3 linked regions of the Homo sapiens genome follow. The protein of the gene in region 1 purifies or fractionates together with the protein of each later gene. This does not show direct contact. Each region holds a gene or a part of one and is shown in the gene's direction. Other genes may lie near its edges. The genes, in order: CLSPN, LACC1 and POLD1.

Region 1 (3,651 bases):
TGGTTGTTGTCTTTAAAAGCAATCAGTTACGGGCTGAGCATGGTGGCTCACGCCTGTAATCCCAACACTTTGGGAGGCAGAGGCAGGTGGATCACAAGGTCAGGAGTTCAGGACCAGCCTGAACAACATGGTGAAACCCCGTCCCTACTAAAAGTTCAAAAATTAGCAGGCTGTGATGGCACGCGCCTGTAATCCCAGCTACTCAGGAGGCTGAGGCAGGAGAATTGCGTGAACCCGGGAGACGGAGGTTGCAGTGAGCAGAGATCATGCCATTGCACTCCAGCCTGGGCGACAGAGCGAGACTCCATCTCAAAAAAAAAAAAAAAAAAGCAAACAGTTACAATGCATATTTGTCGAGTTTCAGATGGCAAATGGCAAGCAAAACTATAACAGGCTATGTGAAGACCTAGTTGTAACTGTTTTCTGTTAATGGATGGGAAAAGTTTACATCATTATATAGTAAATGATAAGGGTTTATTTTTTGTCTGTCCAAGCACCCTCTCCTGTGAGGACTGCCGAATGCTGATTACCTTCACTCTTTGTTTAGATGATGCTTCCCAGATGGACTTGTTCCACAGAGACTCTGATGATGATCAGACTGAAGAACAGCTTGATGAGTCAGAAGCCAGGTGGAGGAAGGAGCGAATTGAACGAGAGCAGTGGCTTCGGGACATGGTAGGAGTTCACCTACTCTGACCCTAGTTTATGAGACTGTCCCTTAGCTTGTCATGATAGTTTCAAAATCTTAGCTTGTCATGATAGTTTCAAAATCTTAGGCAACATATTGCTATCTCTTTTAATCCTTGAGCTATCTTTTGTGTTTTGAGAAGGCTATACCATAGACAGTTCTCTTCATGTTTGTCTAAGATTAATTTTTTTTTGTCTAAAGCAGCAAAGGCTGCAAAAAGGAAAACAAATACCCCAGGAACTCTAGTTTCACAATCCAGGCCATGCTAACTATTTAGGAAGGTTATAGACTTTTAATGCTGTATATATATATATATATATATATATATTTTTTTTTTTTTTCAGGCACAGCAGGGGAAAATTACAGCTGAAGAAGAAGAAGAAATTGGGGAGGACAGTCAGTTTATGATACTGGCCAAGAAAGTTACAGCCAAAGCACTGCAGAAGAATGGTGAGCTCTTGTTTCTCCTTAGGGTCTAGCCCCCTGGATTGTTAGTGGTAGAGCTTTGGAGGTGACTCTAACCTTCAGGAGCTGTTGCAGCTTAATCATAAGCTTGTGTCTAATACTGTCTTAAAGAGGCTTCACAGAGGTGGTGGGAGACAGTGTACTTAGATCTTAGACTATTGGGCAGTAGAGACTGTATTCATGAGTATATGTGGCTGGTTTTACTTTATGTTCTAAGGCTCAGAGTAGTTAATTCTGGCTTTCTCTAGTTGCCCAGGATTGTATACCTAAGTGTTAGAGGTAGGATTTGAATCCAGGAATATTTAACTCCAGAAATGAAGCTCTTCACTATTCCCTACACTGACCACTTCTGTTTTTCTTAAATGATTACTGTTCAACTTAGTTGTGTCTCTTCTTGGAGCCAATTATTATAGTTTGAAAGTCACCATTATATAGAACAGAGTTCCCATGGCTTTAGCATATTGATTTAGTTACAAGATTTCTTAGCTTGTTTAGATTTAAAAGTAATTCTAATCAGCTTTTCCCAGAATAGGCCTCTCTGTCTTTTCTTTCCAGCCAGTCGCCCTATGGTTATTCAGGAATCAAAGTCTTTGCTCAGAAATCCTTTTGAAGCCATCAGACCAGGAAGTGCTCAACAGGTTGGTTGGGAACCTTGTTAATCTGACATCATAGTCTACAGGTTATAAAGGCCCAGGTCCAGCTTAGAGAATAGTCTCTGTCATTAGAGGAAGGAGGTGGCTGCAGGGAAAAAGTTAATGTCAAAGGAGTCTGCTATTTCTTTTCTATTTGAATAGGGTAGGCATATGTACCCTCAATATCTAGGGGGAAGCAGGGAGGGAAGGACTTTTCATTCTTTAGTTGGCACTTGGGATTTGATACCAGATGACTCTTCTTTCCTCAGGTGAAGACAGGCTCACTGCTAAACCAGCCCAAAGCTGTGCTTCAGAAACTGGCTGCTCTCTCTGACCATAACCCCAGTGCTCCTCGAAATTCAAGAAACTTTGTCTTTCATACACTTTCTCCTGTCAAGGCTGAGGCGGCAAAGGAATCGTCTAAGTCTCAGGTATGGAATTTGAGAACTAATATGGTGGCTTCCCAAACCAGAATTTATTCATTTATTTAAATTTAAAAACAAAAATTCTGGCTTAACCTCTATGCTGCAATGTTGAAATCTTGCACTCCCCGATAAGGTACAAGAGAATTGCTACCCCAGTCGGTAATCAACTTTTAAACTTGCCGAGAAAGTTTATCTTTCTTTCTTTTTTTCTGTTGTTAATCATCCACAATTTATGAGTTGCTTGAGAGCTAATTGAAGGTAAATACTTGTATGAAGGTCTTTAGCTGGCCCTGACTCCCTCTCTGCTCTCTAGGTAAAGAAAAGGGGTCCATCTTTCATGACTTCTCCTTCACCTAAGCACCTCAAAACAGATGATAGCACTTCAGGATTGACGCGAAGCATCTTCAAATATTTGGAGAGCTAACACCATCAAAGGTGCCAAAATCTACATTGAGACTGCTTTGAGAAGTTTCTAGCACTGAAAGTTGGAATTGACACTCCAGCCAATGATCCTTCCTTCTTTCATAATCAATGCAATAAGATTGCAGACAGAAATTCCAGTGATTTCTACTGCACAGCTCTGGACATCTCTTTTCCTAGTATTATTCCCTGAATTGGCCACTGATTTCAATTCTGCAGTATTTACAACATCAACAACTCATGGAATACTTGGGTGAGGTTTCCTTTTTTTTTTTTTTTTTAAGATGGGAGTCTCACTCTGTTGCCCAGCTTGGAGTGCAGTGGCGTGATCTCGGCTCACCACAATCTCTGCCTCCCAGGTTCAAGCGATTCTCCTCCTTCAGCCTCCCGAGTAGCTGGGATTACAGGCATGTGCCAATACGCCCAGCTAATTTTTGTATTTTTAGTAGAGACGGGGTTTCACCATGTTGGCCAGGCTGGTCTTGAACTCCTGACCTCAAATGATCCATCCACCTCGGCCCCACAAAGTGCTGGTCACATGCATGAGTCACTGCACCTGGCCTTGGGTTAGGTTTCACTTCCTCCATTAGACATTTGACATTTTATTGTAGCAGCTTTCTGGGTTAATATCTCTTTGTGATTGATAGAAGTGGTTGGAAGAGGAAGAGTAGGGAAAAGTGTGACATTACAGATTAAACAGTGAAAATCAGTACCATAATGACTCCTTTACACCCATGAGATACGTACCATGATGACCAGGGCTCGGTGAAAGAAAGATTTCTTTTTTTTTTTTTGAGATAGTCTCACTTTGTTGCCCAGTCTGGAGTGCAGTGGCGCAATCTCGGCTCACGGCAACCTCTGCCTCCCGGGTTCAAGTGATTCTCCTGTCTCAGCCTCCCAAGTAGCTGGGACTACAGGTGCATGCCACCACACCTGGCTAATTTTTGTATTTTTAGTGGAGACAGGGAGTCACCATGTTGGCCAGGCTGGTCTCGATCTCCTGACCTCAAGTGATCCAGCT
Region 2 (3,651 bases), on another chromosome or scaffold:
GACATGGAATCAACTTAGATGCCCATCAGTGGTGGACTGGATAAAGAAAATATGGTACATATACATAATGGAATACTATAAAGCCATAAAAAAGAATGAAATCATATCCTTACAGCAACATAGATGCAGCTGGAAGCCATCCTAAATGAATTAATGCAGGAACAGAAAATCAGATACCATATGTATCCTTTAAGTGGGAGCTACACATTGAGTACACATGGACACAAAAAAAGGGACAATGGACATGGGGGCTTACTTAAGGGTGGTGGGTGGGAGGAGGGTGACGACTGAAGAACTGTCTGTTCGGTACTATGTCCACTACTTGGGTGATGAAATCGTTTGTACACGAAACCCCAGTGACATGCAATTTACCCATGTAACAAACCTGCATATATGTACCCCGAACCTAAAAAGTTGGAAGAATAAAAATAAATTAACTTTAAAATATAATATAATTAGCTACATTGTATACTACTTTTATCAGATATCAAAAAGAATAAAATTCTTCTATGGGACTAATTTAATAAAGATCTTTTAACTAGATATGTATATATAGATAGGCATAGAAAAATCAAATAGAAAGGAGGTGGATGAACTACAAGTGAGAGGATAACTAAGGAGGCTCACTGAGGAAGAGAGCTACTCTCATCTGTAGAAAAGCCCTGACAGTTTCTCTCTTTAACTCAAAATGCCTATATCTAGTTGCTTCCCTTTGAACATCACTGTCTGCATCTTCCTAGGTGCCTGAAAATCATTATGTCAAAAACTCAACATTTTTTTCCTAAAGTCTTCTCTGCCAGTTAGGTTTCCTGTTTTAATTATTGATATCCTACCCACTTACAGATAGAAACTTGATGTCTTCATTCTGTACTTCCCATAACCACATATTCAGTGGGTTACCTGTAGAGGCTGAACCTGTCACCTAAGTCCTTCTTGCTTTCATCATCTCCTTTTATCTGTAAAAATTGATCCCTTCACCTGAGTGCCTACCTTTTGAAGGGTATGAGTATGGAGTGCTTAAGGAAGGTGTAAGGGTACTCATTATTGGCCAACCATATCAGCTGAATCAAACCCAGATATAGGGAATAAAGGAAAAATGCAATATTCTTAGCTTTCTGTCTTTGGCAACAAGAAGGTAGCATAAGTAAAGAAGATGGTTTTATCTTAGAACACTGTAAGATGCAAGGCAGATAAGACAAAGATGGCAAGGGAACGATAGTCTGGGCAAGTGGGAAGGGAGTAAAAAGAGGCTGTTAATTGAAATATAATAGATATATTTTTGTAAAAAGGGAGAGATGAAAACTGCAAAACATTGCTGAAGGACATTAAAGAAGACACAAATAAATGCAGAGAAATTCTGTGTTCATGGATTAGAAGTTAGAGAAACGCAAATCAAAACCACAGTGAAATATCACCCCACATCCATTAGGATGGCTAATATTTTAAAACCTCAGAAAATAAGTGTTGTTGAGGATATGGAGAAGTTGAAATCCTGGTGCACTGGTGGTGGGAATGTGAAATTGTGTAGCCACTATAGAAAACAGTATGGCAATTTCTCAAAAAATTATAAATAGATTACCATATAATCCAGAAATTCCTCTTCTGGAAGTATATCCAAAATAACTGAAATCAGGAACTCAAAGAGATATTTGCACACCAATGTTGATAACACGATTATTCGCAATAGCCAAAAGGTGAAAGCAATCTAAGGTACATTGGTAGATGAATGGATAAGCAAAATGTGTGTGCATACAATGGAATATTATTTAGCTTTAAAAAGGCAGGATATTCTGACACATACTACAATATAGATGAACCTTAAGGACATTATGCTAAGTGAAATCAGTCAGTCACAAAAAGATAAATACTGTATTGATTTCACTTATATGATATACCTACAGTAATCAAATGTACAGGAACTGGAAGAAGAATGGTGATTGCCAGGGGCTGGTAAAAGGAAGAAACAAGGAGTTATTGTTAATAGTTGTAGAGTTTCCATTTTATCAAATGAAAAAATTCTGGAGATTGGTTATACAACAATGTGAGTTCAACACTACTGAACTGTATACTTAGAATAGTATTTTTTTGTGGTTATAATAGTAAATTTTGTGGGTTTTTAACCACAATCTTTTAAAATGTGAAAAATAGAAGACTAAGAAGCTATGATCTCAGTGGAAACTAAAAGTATAGAGCATCTTTAAATGGAAGATGAAGAAAACTCCCATTACATGTCTCTTCTGTGTCAGGTGCTTTGTGTAGTATGGCTCATTTAAAAACCACATGATAATGTAATTTATTATTTCTGGACTTTGAAAAATATACAAACTAAATCTGCTCACTTTTAACTTAGACATAAATTCAGGTGAAATTTTTTATGTTTTGACTTCTCTTATCTCTTTTTATTCCTATTTACCAGGTTGGAAAGGTACTTTGTTGGGTGTTGCTATGGCTACAGTGAATGCTATGATAGCAGAATATGGCTGCAGTTTGGAAGACATTGTTGTTGTACTTGGACCTTCAGTAGGACCTTGCTGTTTTACTCTTCCAAGGGAATCAGCAGAGGCATTTCATAATCTTCATCCTGCATGTGTACAACTATTTGATTCACCAAATCCCTGTATCGACATCCGTAAAGCCACAAGGTATGTCTGATTTCATTCAACTGCAAGTTTGATTATTTCTGATTGTTCTAAAATGAAATTTATTTTGGAGAACAATTAATAACTCTAAGAAGAATTTAGGTGGTGGTTATTTAAGCAGCTGACATGCACATGTACACAAACACTCATTTTAAATATGAAATCTGTTTTCATTTGAGTTTGAATAACAGAAATTTTCCTGTCTGGTATCTTTCATTGATTTAAAAGTGAAGGAAGAAATATTTGGCATTTAATTTTAAGAGATCTACTTAAACTTCATATAGAAAAGTTGGCGTGTACTTTACTTCACAGCCATTCCTCAGCTAAATTCTCCTAAATGTAATGAACTATCAGGAAGCTGATATTTTAAAATTATTCTTATTATCTAATTAACTAGAGGAATATGTTTTTTAGAAAAAATATTAGATAATATAAATACACGGTTTTTTACTTTTAAGTTTTTTACAGTTCTTCGCATCTTTTAATTTACAAGGTTTTGTTATTAATAACTGGTGAAAATTATTTGTCATTACTACAAAGGCAAATTAATGTATGTTTTAAATCATGTTTCTATTCCAGTCGCCAAAACTTTACCCAGAGTCTGCCTCATTTAGTACAGATGTGGAAAAGTTTGAAATTGATTCTTAAATGTGACTTTTAAAATCAAGTATCACTAACTTGTAGTCATATTTCATATCATAAAGTGTTCATGGAGAAGCAAGTTTTCTGAGAAAAATCTGGCTAATAGAAGGAAAGGAGATGAAGGGCCAGATGACTAAAAAGCATACTCTGGCTGAGCCAGGTGAATTTTGCCTGATATCCTGGTAACTTTTGTAGACATTTCTTCTTAAATAAGCACTTGATTTTGATTATAAAATTCTGTACCTAGATTATGTCTATAAGACAATATGGAAGGTTGTACTGTGCATATATGAACTTAGGTGATAAATGCTGATAAAGTGTAGCATTTTTTTCCCTGACTAGTCCATGTTCTGTAAGTGAATAACAATAT
Region 3 (3,651 bases), on another chromosome or scaffold:
GGTTGAAATATAAATATAAGATATATATATATGATATATTCTTTATGTATTAATTTATGTATAACATATATTATATATTAATATATTTTGTAGAGACAAATATATTTATTTGTACATATAATATGTGTGTGTATTTGTGTATATGTGTATATATATATATATATATATATATTTTTTTTTTTTTTTTTTTTTTTTCTTTTTTTTGAGACTGGGTCTCGCTCTTTTGCCCAGGCTGGTCTCAAAGTCCTGGGCTCTAGCGATCCTCCCGCCTTGGCCTCACAAAGCACTGGAATCACAGGTGTGAGTCACTGTGCACGGCCAGTTGTTTTTATCTTGTAATAAAAAAGAAGGGCCTCCCTGTAGTTGTGCTGTGGAGAATGGATCCTGGGGGATGAGGCTGGAGATGGGAACCAGGGGGGAGGCTGAAATGGACACAGGGAACGGTACAGGGGCAGGAGTGCCCCAGGCTGCAGGCCCCAAGGTATTTCGAGGCTGTGGAGACACACCTTGGAGGACCCTGAGAGGCATGGCCGCTGTCTTACCCTGTGACCCCACAGGCCCAGCGCAGCCTGTGCCTGGGGGGCCCCCACCATCCCGCGGCTCCGTGCCTGTGCTCCGCGCCTTCGGGGTCACCGATGAGGGGTTCTCTGTCTGCTGCCACATCCACGGCTTCGCTCCCTACTTCTACACCCCAGCGCCCCCTGGTGAGTGGCCCCTACCCAGCCCCTCCCTGAGCCACTGGAGCCCCCTGCACCTCTGATCATCCCTCCCACACCAGGTTTCGGGCCCGAGCACATGGGTGACCTGCAACGGGAGCTGAACTTGGCCATCAGCCGGGACAGTCGCGGGGGGAGGGAGCTGACTGGGCCGGCCGTGCTGGCTGTGGAACTGTGCTCCCGAGAGAGTGAGTGCTCCCCCAGGATCAGCGGGTTGGAGGGTCCCCTCGGGAGGCCATTGGCTGGTCCCAGCTTCTTCCATCCACAGGCATGTTTGGGTACCACGGGCACGGCCCCTCCCCGTTCCTGCGCATCACCGTGGCGCTGCCGCGCCTCGTGGCCCCGGCCCGCCGTCTCCTGGAACAGGGCATCCGTGTGGCAGGCCTGGGCACGCCCAGCTTCGCGCCCTACGAGGCCAACGTCGACTTTGAGATCCGGTACGGCCTCTGCCTCACTTCTCCGGCCTCTATCCCCACCCTCGGGCAGCCCCTGTCCACTGACCCCCAGCCCCCTCCAGGTTCATGGTGGACACGGACATCGTCGGCTGCAACTGGCTGGAGCTCCCAGCTGGGAAATACGCCCTGAGGCTGAAGGAGAAGGTGCAGGGCTTCCCAGGGCAGGGCTGGGTGGGGAGCTGGTACCCTGCTGCCACCGCTGACCCACCCATGCCCACAGGCTACGCAGTGCCAGCTGGAGGCGGACGTGCTGTGGTCTGACGTGGTCAGTCACCCACCGGAAGGGCCATGGCAGCGCATTGCGCCCTTGCGCGTGCTCAGCTTCGATATCGAGTGCGCCGGCCGCAAAGGTCTGTCCCCGGGCCCGGGCTCCTGCCCGCCTCATTGATGTGCCAAGTCGGGGGTCGGAAAGGCAGGTCCGGTGGAGGGAATGGCAAGCATGAAGGTGCCGGGGCAGGAGCACCCCAGCCCATGTGGCCAGATGGAGTGAGCACAGAGGGTGTGGAGATGGCCTGGAGGTGAGAGCAGAGCAGGAGCCAGGGTGAGCCACGTAGGGCCGGCAGGCAGCGGGGACAGCCCCGGGGAGATGGCAGGTGCAGCCTCCCTGCTGTGTTGGGAGTGAGGGGCAGGAGTCAGGCCCCTGCATCCTCCTGCCTCGCAGGCATCTTCCCTGAGCCTGAGCGGGACCCTGTCATCCAGATCTGCTCGCTGGGCCTGCGCTGGGGGGAGCCGGAGCCCTTCCTACGCCTGGCGCTCACCCTGCGGCCCTGTGCCCCCATCCTGGGTGCCAAGGTGCAGAGCTACGAGAAGGAGGAGGACCTGCTGCAGGTAGCTCTCGCTCCACGCCCCACACCATTTCCCGGGGTCCCCGCCAGCCTCCGCGTCCTGAGCCATCAGCTCCTGGGTGCTGCGACGCCCATGTCTGTGGGTCTGGGTGGGTGTCTGTGGGTCTGGGTGGGCCCCTGTGCAATTAGGCTTGAGCACTTCCCCTCTGGGTTCTGCAGGATTTTCAGGGGTGGCTGGGGTTCTAGAACATTCTGGAAGTAGGGGAATCCGAGGCAGGGCAACCACCAGGGTGACCCAATGTGCTCCCACCCCCAGGCCTGGTCCACCTTCATCCGTATCATGGACCCCGACGTGATCACCGGTTACAACATCCAGAACTTCGACCTTCCGTACCTCATCTCTCGGGCCCAGACCCTCAAGGTGAGGGCTGGGCAGGTGGGAGGCTTCTCTCAGATGCCCCAGGTGTGGCCTCCGGGCCCTGGGCCTCCTTCCCACTCCCTCTCCACATGGCTTGGTGCATCTTGCTCTGTGTGCCTCAGCCGATTGCCTGCAGGGGCAGCCTAGGCCTGGTCCTGCCCTGCTCCAAGTCGAAAAAGTTACTGTGGCTTTTATCAGAGGCAAGGAGGGCGTTACGGTGGAGTAAGAGAAGGCTGTGCATTCAAGGTCGGCCTGAAGCTTGCAGGGGTTCAACAAGCCATGAAGCAGCCACTGAATCCCAGTCTTCCTTTAGGTTATATCAGCATAAGGAAAAGAATCATAATGGAGGAGGAGGGGGGAGTGTGTTGACTGATGGGGCAAATTCCGGATGCTTCTTGAGTCTGCATGTGTGTAAGGGTGGATTCCTCTGCCCGAGTTGCTGTAACAAAGAGCCACAGACCAGGTGGCTGAAAACAGCAAAAAGTCATTGTCTCACCGTCCTGAAGGCTGGAAAGTCCATGACCAAAGTGTCAGCGGGCCTGCTTCCTTCGGGGGCTGCAAGGGAGGACTGGTTCACGGCCTCTCTCCTTGGCTTGCAGACGGCCATCATCCCCCTGTGCCTCTTCACACCGTCTTCTCTCTGTGCGTGTCTGTTTCCACATGTCCTCCCTTTTTTTTTTTTTTCCAAGACAAAGTCTCGCTCTGTCGCCCAGGCTGGAGTGCAGTGGCGCAATCTTGGCTCACTGCAAACTCCGCCTCCCAGGTTCATGCCATTCTCCTGCCTCAGCCTCCCAAGTAGCTGGGACTACAGGCGCCCGCCACCACGCCTGGCTAATTTTTTGTGTTTTTAGTAGAGACGGGGTTTCACTGTGTTAGCGAGGATGGTCTTGATCTCCTGACCTTGTGATCCGTCTGCCTCGGCCTCCCAAAGTGTTGGGATTATAGGCGTGAGCTACTGCACCCAACCCCTTTTCTCTTTCTTTTTTTTTTTTTTTTTTTTTTGAGACAGAGTCTCGCTGTGTCGCCCAGGCTGGAGTGCGATGGCACGATCGAGGCTCACTGCAACCTCCACCTCCCAGGTTCAAGCGATTCTCCTGCCTCAGCCTCCCAAGTAGCTGGGATTACAGGCGTGAGCCACCACGCCCCGCAAATTTTTGCTTTTTTGTTATTGTTTCTTGAGATGGAATTTCGCTCTTGTTGCCCAGGCTGGAGTGCAATGGCACGATCTTGGCTCACCACAACCTCCGCCTCCCAGGGGGCGCTGGGGTGTAGAAGTG

What was found.
Region 2: the proteins of CLSPN (region 1) and LACC1 purify together in Homo sapiens (pull-down; one large-scale study listed by IntAct). This does not show direct contact.
Region 3: the proteins of CLSPN (region 1) and POLD1 purify together in Homo sapiens (affinity purification with western blotting, with the first as the bait; one study listed by BioGRID). This does not show direct contact.

The regions. Positions count from the first base shown.
Region 1 is NC_000001.11:35,735,479-35,739,129, reverse strand, and holds part of CLSPN (claspin), read left to right. Parts: intron 1-547; coding exon 548-675; intron 676-1,032; coding exon 1,033-1,138; intron 1,139-1,708; coding exon 1,709-1,791; intron 1,792-2,054; coding exon 2,055-2,216; intron 2,217-2,523; coding exon 2,524-2,634; 3' UTR 2,635-3,651.
Region 2 is NC_000013.11:43,886,341-43,889,991, forward strand, and holds part of LACC1 (purine nucleoside phosphorylase LACC1), read left to right. Parts: exon of another isoform or gene 1-450; intron 451-2,416; coding exon 2,417-2,642; intron 2,643-3,651. UniProt on the Homo sapiens protein: Purine nucleoside enzyme that catalyzes the phosphorolysis of adenosine, guanosine and inosine nucleosides, yielding D-ribose 1-phosphate and the respective free bases, adenine, guanine and hypoxanthine.
Region 3 is NC_000019.10:50,401,221-50,404,871, forward strand, and holds part of POLD1 (DNA polymerase delta catalytic subunit), read left to right. Parts: intron 1-557; coding exon 558-704; intron 705-778; coding exon 779-904; intron 905-984; coding exon 985-1,153; intron 1,154-1,233; coding exon 1,234-1,315; intron 1,316-1,391; coding exon 1,392-1,521; intron 1,522-1,832; coding exon 1,833-1,999; intron 2,000-2,272; coding exon 2,273-2,377; intron 2,378-3,651. UniProt on the Homo sapiens protein: As the catalytic component of the trimeric (Pol-delta3 complex) and tetrameric DNA polymerase delta complexes (Pol-delta4 complex), plays a crucial role in high fidelity genome replication, including in lagging strand synthesis, and repair.